2 linked regions of the Homo sapiens genome follow. Changing the gene in region 2 together with the main gene of any one other region gives a genetic interaction. Each region holds a gene or a part of one and is shown on either strand. Other genes may lie near its edges.

Region 1 (2,467 bases), on a different chromosome or scaffold from region 2:
AATTATGTACACAAAAATATTTTCCTTGTAGAAAATAGTTTTCCAGACACTTAGCCTTCTGAAGTGCTCATCTCTTGCTTAAATGATAGTCTATTTAGTAGTTTAAAATAAAAATAATCACTCCCTATGATCTAGTTAATGTAATTATCCAGTCACTGTAACTAATCTCTTGAAGGGACTTTTGTGATAAAGAGCCAAGTTCAGAAGCATAGCGTGTACCGAAAATGAAGACTCTCCTATCTACTGCTACAGATCCTGTTGAAGAAAGAGCTTACCCCTTTCCCCCGGAAAACTTGCAATCCTGTAGTTCCCATATGTGTGGCATATGTCAGTTATGAAATTATTATAATTCAGCCTTCAAACTACTACTGATCAACTAAAGGAAAGCTAATAAGGTATTTCTTTTAAACAAGTATTCTGGAAAAGTAATAACTATGGCACAAATGTTCAGGAGTGTATATAAAAATATGTGGGCTCTCGATTTATTTGAGCAAACATTGCAATGAGGGTGTTCATTATGCTTCTAAGTAAGCTTTAACTAGACCACTTTCTTCTTATGTCAGATTGTGCTGGTTCTAGCTCATAATAATGAAAAAAATAGAATTATATTTTGTATGAATTGTTTCTAACAAACCTTGATCTGTATATACTTGTGAGGGGTTGTTTGGTTGCCTAATTGTTGATTGGTTGGTTAGTTGGGCAAAATCATTTATTACATGCAAAAATAGAAAATTATTTGTTAAATTCAGAGAAAATATGTGAAGTTTACAAAGGAACCAAAATGATAATGGGAGAATTTAGTCTTAAAAGTTTAGGTTGTCAGAGTTTATCTGATATACAAAAAAGTAGGATCAAAGTCTAGGAACAAACATTGGTTATTTCACTGAAACAGATTTTTAAAGAGCATATTAAGAAATTAAGACCATTAGATCATCTCTTTCATAATGATATGATGTTATTTCCATTGACGGCAAATCTATACTGTTCCTTGGTTTTAGAGTTGGGTATTCTTTCAAAAGTGAATTTAGGCACATGCATGTACATTGTATTTATAAAGATTATATATGTAGTTTCCAAGGAAGAAACAAAGACCTATACAGTTTAGACTTTATTTGTTTGGTGAACGTGCTGTTGTGTTTGGCATAGCTAGAGAAATGTAAGGTAAAAGGCTCACTTTGTTTTCCAGTGGGTCCAGAGTCTTCTCTATACCCAACATATGTTTACTTTATGAACTTAAATGGAAATTAATTTATTGTAGACTACATCTCTATTTGGAATGATGAGGTAAATGTATACCTTAGCATTTTCTTTAACAAAAATGTTCTGTGTGTCAGGAAAGAGGTGTGAGAGTGGTAGGCAGCCTGCCGCAAACACACGGATGGCTCCCCCCGCCACGAAGGTTGAGAACAAAGCCAGGGGGCCCAGAGGAGCAATAGCCCTGGGCCACAAGCGTGGGTAGGCCTTTCACGTATTCCGTCTGCACAGGCAACCAAGGCCAGTAGAAAGCTATGGCTGCAAAACCCTGGGGTGGACGATGTTTGATGATTAGACGGTCATCTCTAACTACTAAACTAATATCTGCATTCTTGTTAACATAAATCTCTCCTTGGCTATTTTAATAGCCACAGTCCCAAACTTCATCCCAGCTTAGATTTCTCAGCACTGAGGTAAACTCTGCATTGTCATCCCAGCGTACACCTTTAATGTTTTATTGATTTCACTGGCACTGTATTTGGACCTGTCCTTGTATATGTAGAGACATATGTGGCTTCATTGGTAATTTACAAGCAAAAGATGACATGACGTGACACCTGTATGAAAATGTGATGATTGAACTCCCTGTGTACAGCGAGTGAATTAAAATGTCTGCCTCTCCAGACATTTCTTAATGATTCCACTTAATAGACTCTATGTGTGCTGAATGTTCCTGTGTACATATGTGTGTTAAATAAAACAATTGTATTGAAGACTGTTTTTCTCACAATATTACCTTTTCCAGTGTTCACTCATCTTAAACATCCTCAGTTGAAATCCGTATGCTCCGCTAGCCCTGCTGCTTCTAATCATTCATTTCCCTGGAGAGCTGGCTTGGGAAAGGCAACTTATTCCCAGAGGACAGTAGAGCAGAAGTGCAGAGGTAAGCTCTCCCTCCAGAAACTCACTGGCACTCTCTGTGGTTTGGGAAAGGCGTTGCATGCCTGTTGCTTTATCTCTACTCTACATGCTCCCAAATAGACTGGTAATGGCACCAAATCATATCTTGTCAGATTGGATGGCATGGGTTGGCTGCCTCTCGGGAGCTAGGCTGAGATCATCAAGTTCATTGCATTTCACGCTCAGTTTGGAGTCGAATTTGAATCCCTCAGGTAAAGGGTATAATTGGTTTTCAGAAAAATCAAGAATAATAAAATAGGTCCTTACTGCTCATAGAGGGTTATGTGTAAGTAGTGAATGTACTTCTTGTCTC
Region 2 (3,262 bases):
GGAAAGAGAAGTTAAAGAAGATGGAATAATCCATTTCCCTGGTAAGTTAATACAGCTAAACTAAAACTACCACCAGGTTACAGAATAGAGCAACAGACTGGAAAAAAACAATAGTATTAGAAATCTGGGGTGAATTCCAAGGATTAGCCTGGCTACTAAGGAACACAGTATGGGCAATGACTACTGTGACTTATTGAGGCATGCTAGGAAACATCTGGAAGGGCTATAGACCAGGAATTACAGGAGTAACTAACCAGCCTTCCAAACTCCTCTTGTCTTGCAGGTGGCCTGTGCGGGACTGGTGCAGAAACTACTCGTCTCCCTTTTCACAGCACTCCTTTGCCCCAGAGCAGAGAATGGAAAAGCCAGGGAGGTGGAAGATCGATGCTTCCAGCTGTGCCTCTGCTGCCAGCCAAGTCTTCATTTGGGGCCAAAGGGGAAACTTTTTTTTGGAGAAGGCGTCTTGCTTTGTCACCCACGCTGGAATGCAGTGGCGGGATCTCAGCTCACCGCAACCTCCACCTCCTGGGTTCAAGTGATTTTCCTGCCTCAGCCTCCCAAGTAGCTGGGAATACAGGCACGCCACCATGCCCAGCTAATTTTTGTATTTTCAGTAGAAACGGGATTTCACCACGTTGGCCAGGCTGGTCTCGAACTCCTGACCGCAAGTGATCCACCCGCCTCCGCCTCCCAAAGTGCTGGGATTACAGGCGTGAGCCACCGTGCCCGGCCCAAAGGGGAAACTCTTGTGGGAGGAGCAGAGGGGCTCACATCTCCCCTCTGATTCCCCCATGCACATTGCCTTATCTCTCCCCATCTAGCCAGGAATCTATTGTGTTTTTCTTCTGCCAATTTACTATGATTGTGTATGTGCCGCTACCACCACCCCCCCCATGGGGGGGTGGAGAGGGGTGCAAGGCCCTGCCTGCTCCACTTTTTCTACCTTGGAACTGTATTAGATAAAATCACTTCTGTTTGTTCAGTTTTTCACCACTAGCATTCCTGACTGCTCTCTTTCACAGTTCTTCTCCATCATCAGGGTTCTCTCCTTTAGCACATGGGAATCTGGGAGCTAAAGCCTGCCTTCAAAGCATGGAACCAAACTGCAAACTCTGTAACCTCCTATCTGTCCCTGAAGTCCCGGGGAACAAACAGTTTTACACCACTGGATACTTTAGGAACCCCAAAACAACCAGGTTTGCAAGAACAGTATTCATAGGATAAACAAATAGCAAATGTACAGCCTTGGCTTCCCCAAACTCCACAGTCTCAGTGCAGAAAGATCATCTTCCAGCAGTCAGCTCAGACCAGGGTCAAAGGATGTGACATCAACAGTTTCTGGTTTCAGAACAGGTTCTACTACTGTCAAATGACCCCCCATACTTCCTCAAAGGCTGTGGTAAGTTTTGCACAGGTGAGGGCAGCAGAAAGGGGGTAGTTACTGATGGACACCATCTTCTCTGTATACTCCACACTGACCTAAGAAAAGAACAGTTTTGTCAGCCAACTCTGTCACTCAGTAGCTGTTTCAGCCCTTCTTTAGGGCAGGAAAACTATGGCTGAGCTAGTATTTCAGCTGTGCTGTTGAATATCAAATCCCTACAAAGGATGAAGAAGGTCCTAACTGTGACTTCCAATTATGGCAGCAGCCCTCAAAGGATGTGCCCTGGGGCAGGGTGTGGAACTGTCATGTGTCTTCTAGCTCATTGTAAGCATTGTTAAAATGCCTACTGCTCTGGGAATTCTATACTAAGTTCAGCTCTACCAAGAATTTCAGGGTTGAGCCCAGACCTTACCTTGCCATGGGCAAAGGCCCCTACCACAAAAACAATAGGATCACTGCTGGGCACCAGCTCACGCACATCACTGACAACCGGGATGGAAAAAGAAGTGCCAACTTTCATACATCCAACTGGAAAGTGATCTGATACTGGATTCTTAATTACCTAAAGTAAAAAAGAGAGAAAAGTCAGCCCCAGAAACATTCCCAGAACCAGCCTTCAACTAACAGGTTTCAATACCTCACCTTCAAAAGCTTCTGGGGGCCATCAGCTGCTCGAACACTGAGCTTGTGTAAAAGTTGAACTAGAAGGGGGAAAAAAGAGTTCAGAGCTAGATGGAGACCACAGTCCTTCTGTCCAGTCATCGAACAAGGAAAACCCCATGGATAAGATGAGTTCCCTGTGTGCTTTATATCTAGACTGGACTCCTGAAATGTTAGGAACAAACAGTTGCCAAGCATATGGCTAGCTGTACAGTGATGGGTTCAGACTCCCTCTTTCACTCAGCCAGGAAGCTACTGCAAGAACAGGAGTGGAGTTTCCACAAACATAGAAAAATAATAACAGTCCTTGTCCTGGTATTAATCATGTTGTTCTCCCATTTTCTCGCTTAAAAATCCACATTTAGTTCTCCCTTTTCCTCTTCCTCCCTTCTTCCCTACTGACAAGTTCATTCTAACTTTGTTCTAAGGCTTCTTACCCATGAGGCCACAAAAGCGGTCAAAGGTTCTGGGAATTCGGGTCTGGGGATTCACTTCAATCAGAACATTCTTCTGTGTATGGATATAAACCTGTAGCAAGCCAGCTCGGTTCAGGGGACTATCCATCAGCATCAGCAAACTCTGAGCAAAGCAGAAACCGAGACATGGTTAAGGCTGAAGAGAGGCAGCACTCAGCTGCCAACCCTTCCATACAGAGGCTCAAAGGGTTGTGAGCACTGTCCCTGGAGTTACCTGGTGGGTGATATCTGGCCGCGCTTCCCCAGGGTCCCGTCCATTCTTCAACAATATAGACTTGTGCTTGTCACAGTTGAGTAGCTCATATGTCTTCCCTACCTGAAGAACAGGGAACATGACGAGAGAACAGCATAAGCTTCTGTTACCTAGCCCCGTGGTTCTTCAAGTGTGGTCCCCAAACTACCAGCAGCAGCTGCACCTGGAAACTTGTTAGGCAAATTCTCAGGCCCACCCTAGACCTACTAAACCAGGAACACTGGGGGTGGAGCCCAGCAAGCCCTTCGGGGGATTACTGTGCAGCCTTATTTGCACTCCCCAGTGAATGGTCTGAGAGGGAAACAGGAGGAAGGGCACAACCTGTGACTTCACATTATCTACTAATACACTGGATTTAATTAAAAAACCTGTGGCTGTTAGGCAAGGCCAATGAGACATCCTGGAACTAGGCAGGAGTTAGTAGTTAGCAAGGCTGAATGCTGTGTTTATTACAGGAGCAGTAAGTAGGTACTGTGCAAAATATCGAGT

Evidence for each region. Genes that interact genetically often act in the same process or in processes that back each other up.
Region 1: changes in EMG1 (region 2) and WDR7 together harm fitness less than expected from each alone (positive genetic interaction), as found in Homo sapiens cells (one large-scale study listed by BioGRID).

Annotation. Positions count from the first base shown.
Region 1 is NC_000018.10:57,027,826-57,030,292, forward strand, and holds the end of WDR7 (WD repeat-containing protein 7), read left to right. Parts: 3' UTR 1-1,967; downstream 1,968-2,467.
Region 2 is NC_000012.12:6,973,913-6,977,174, reverse strand, and holds part of EMG1 (ribosomal RNA small subunit methyltransferase NEP1), read right to left. Parts: intron 2,837-3,262; coding exon 2,735-2,836; intron 2,624-2,734; coding exon 2,482-2,623; intron 2,086-2,481; coding exon 2,027-2,085; intron 1,947-2,026; coding exon 1,797-1,946; intron 1,480-1,796; coding exon 1,366-1,479; 3' UTR 30-1,365; coding exon of another isoform or gene 1-29. Other genes in the region: LPCAT3 (lysophospholipid acyltransferase 5), read left to right, coding at 1-29. UniProt on the Homo sapiens protein: S-adenosyl-L-methionine-dependent pseudouridine N(1)-methyltransferase that methylates pseudouridine at position 1248 (Psi1248) in 18S rRNA.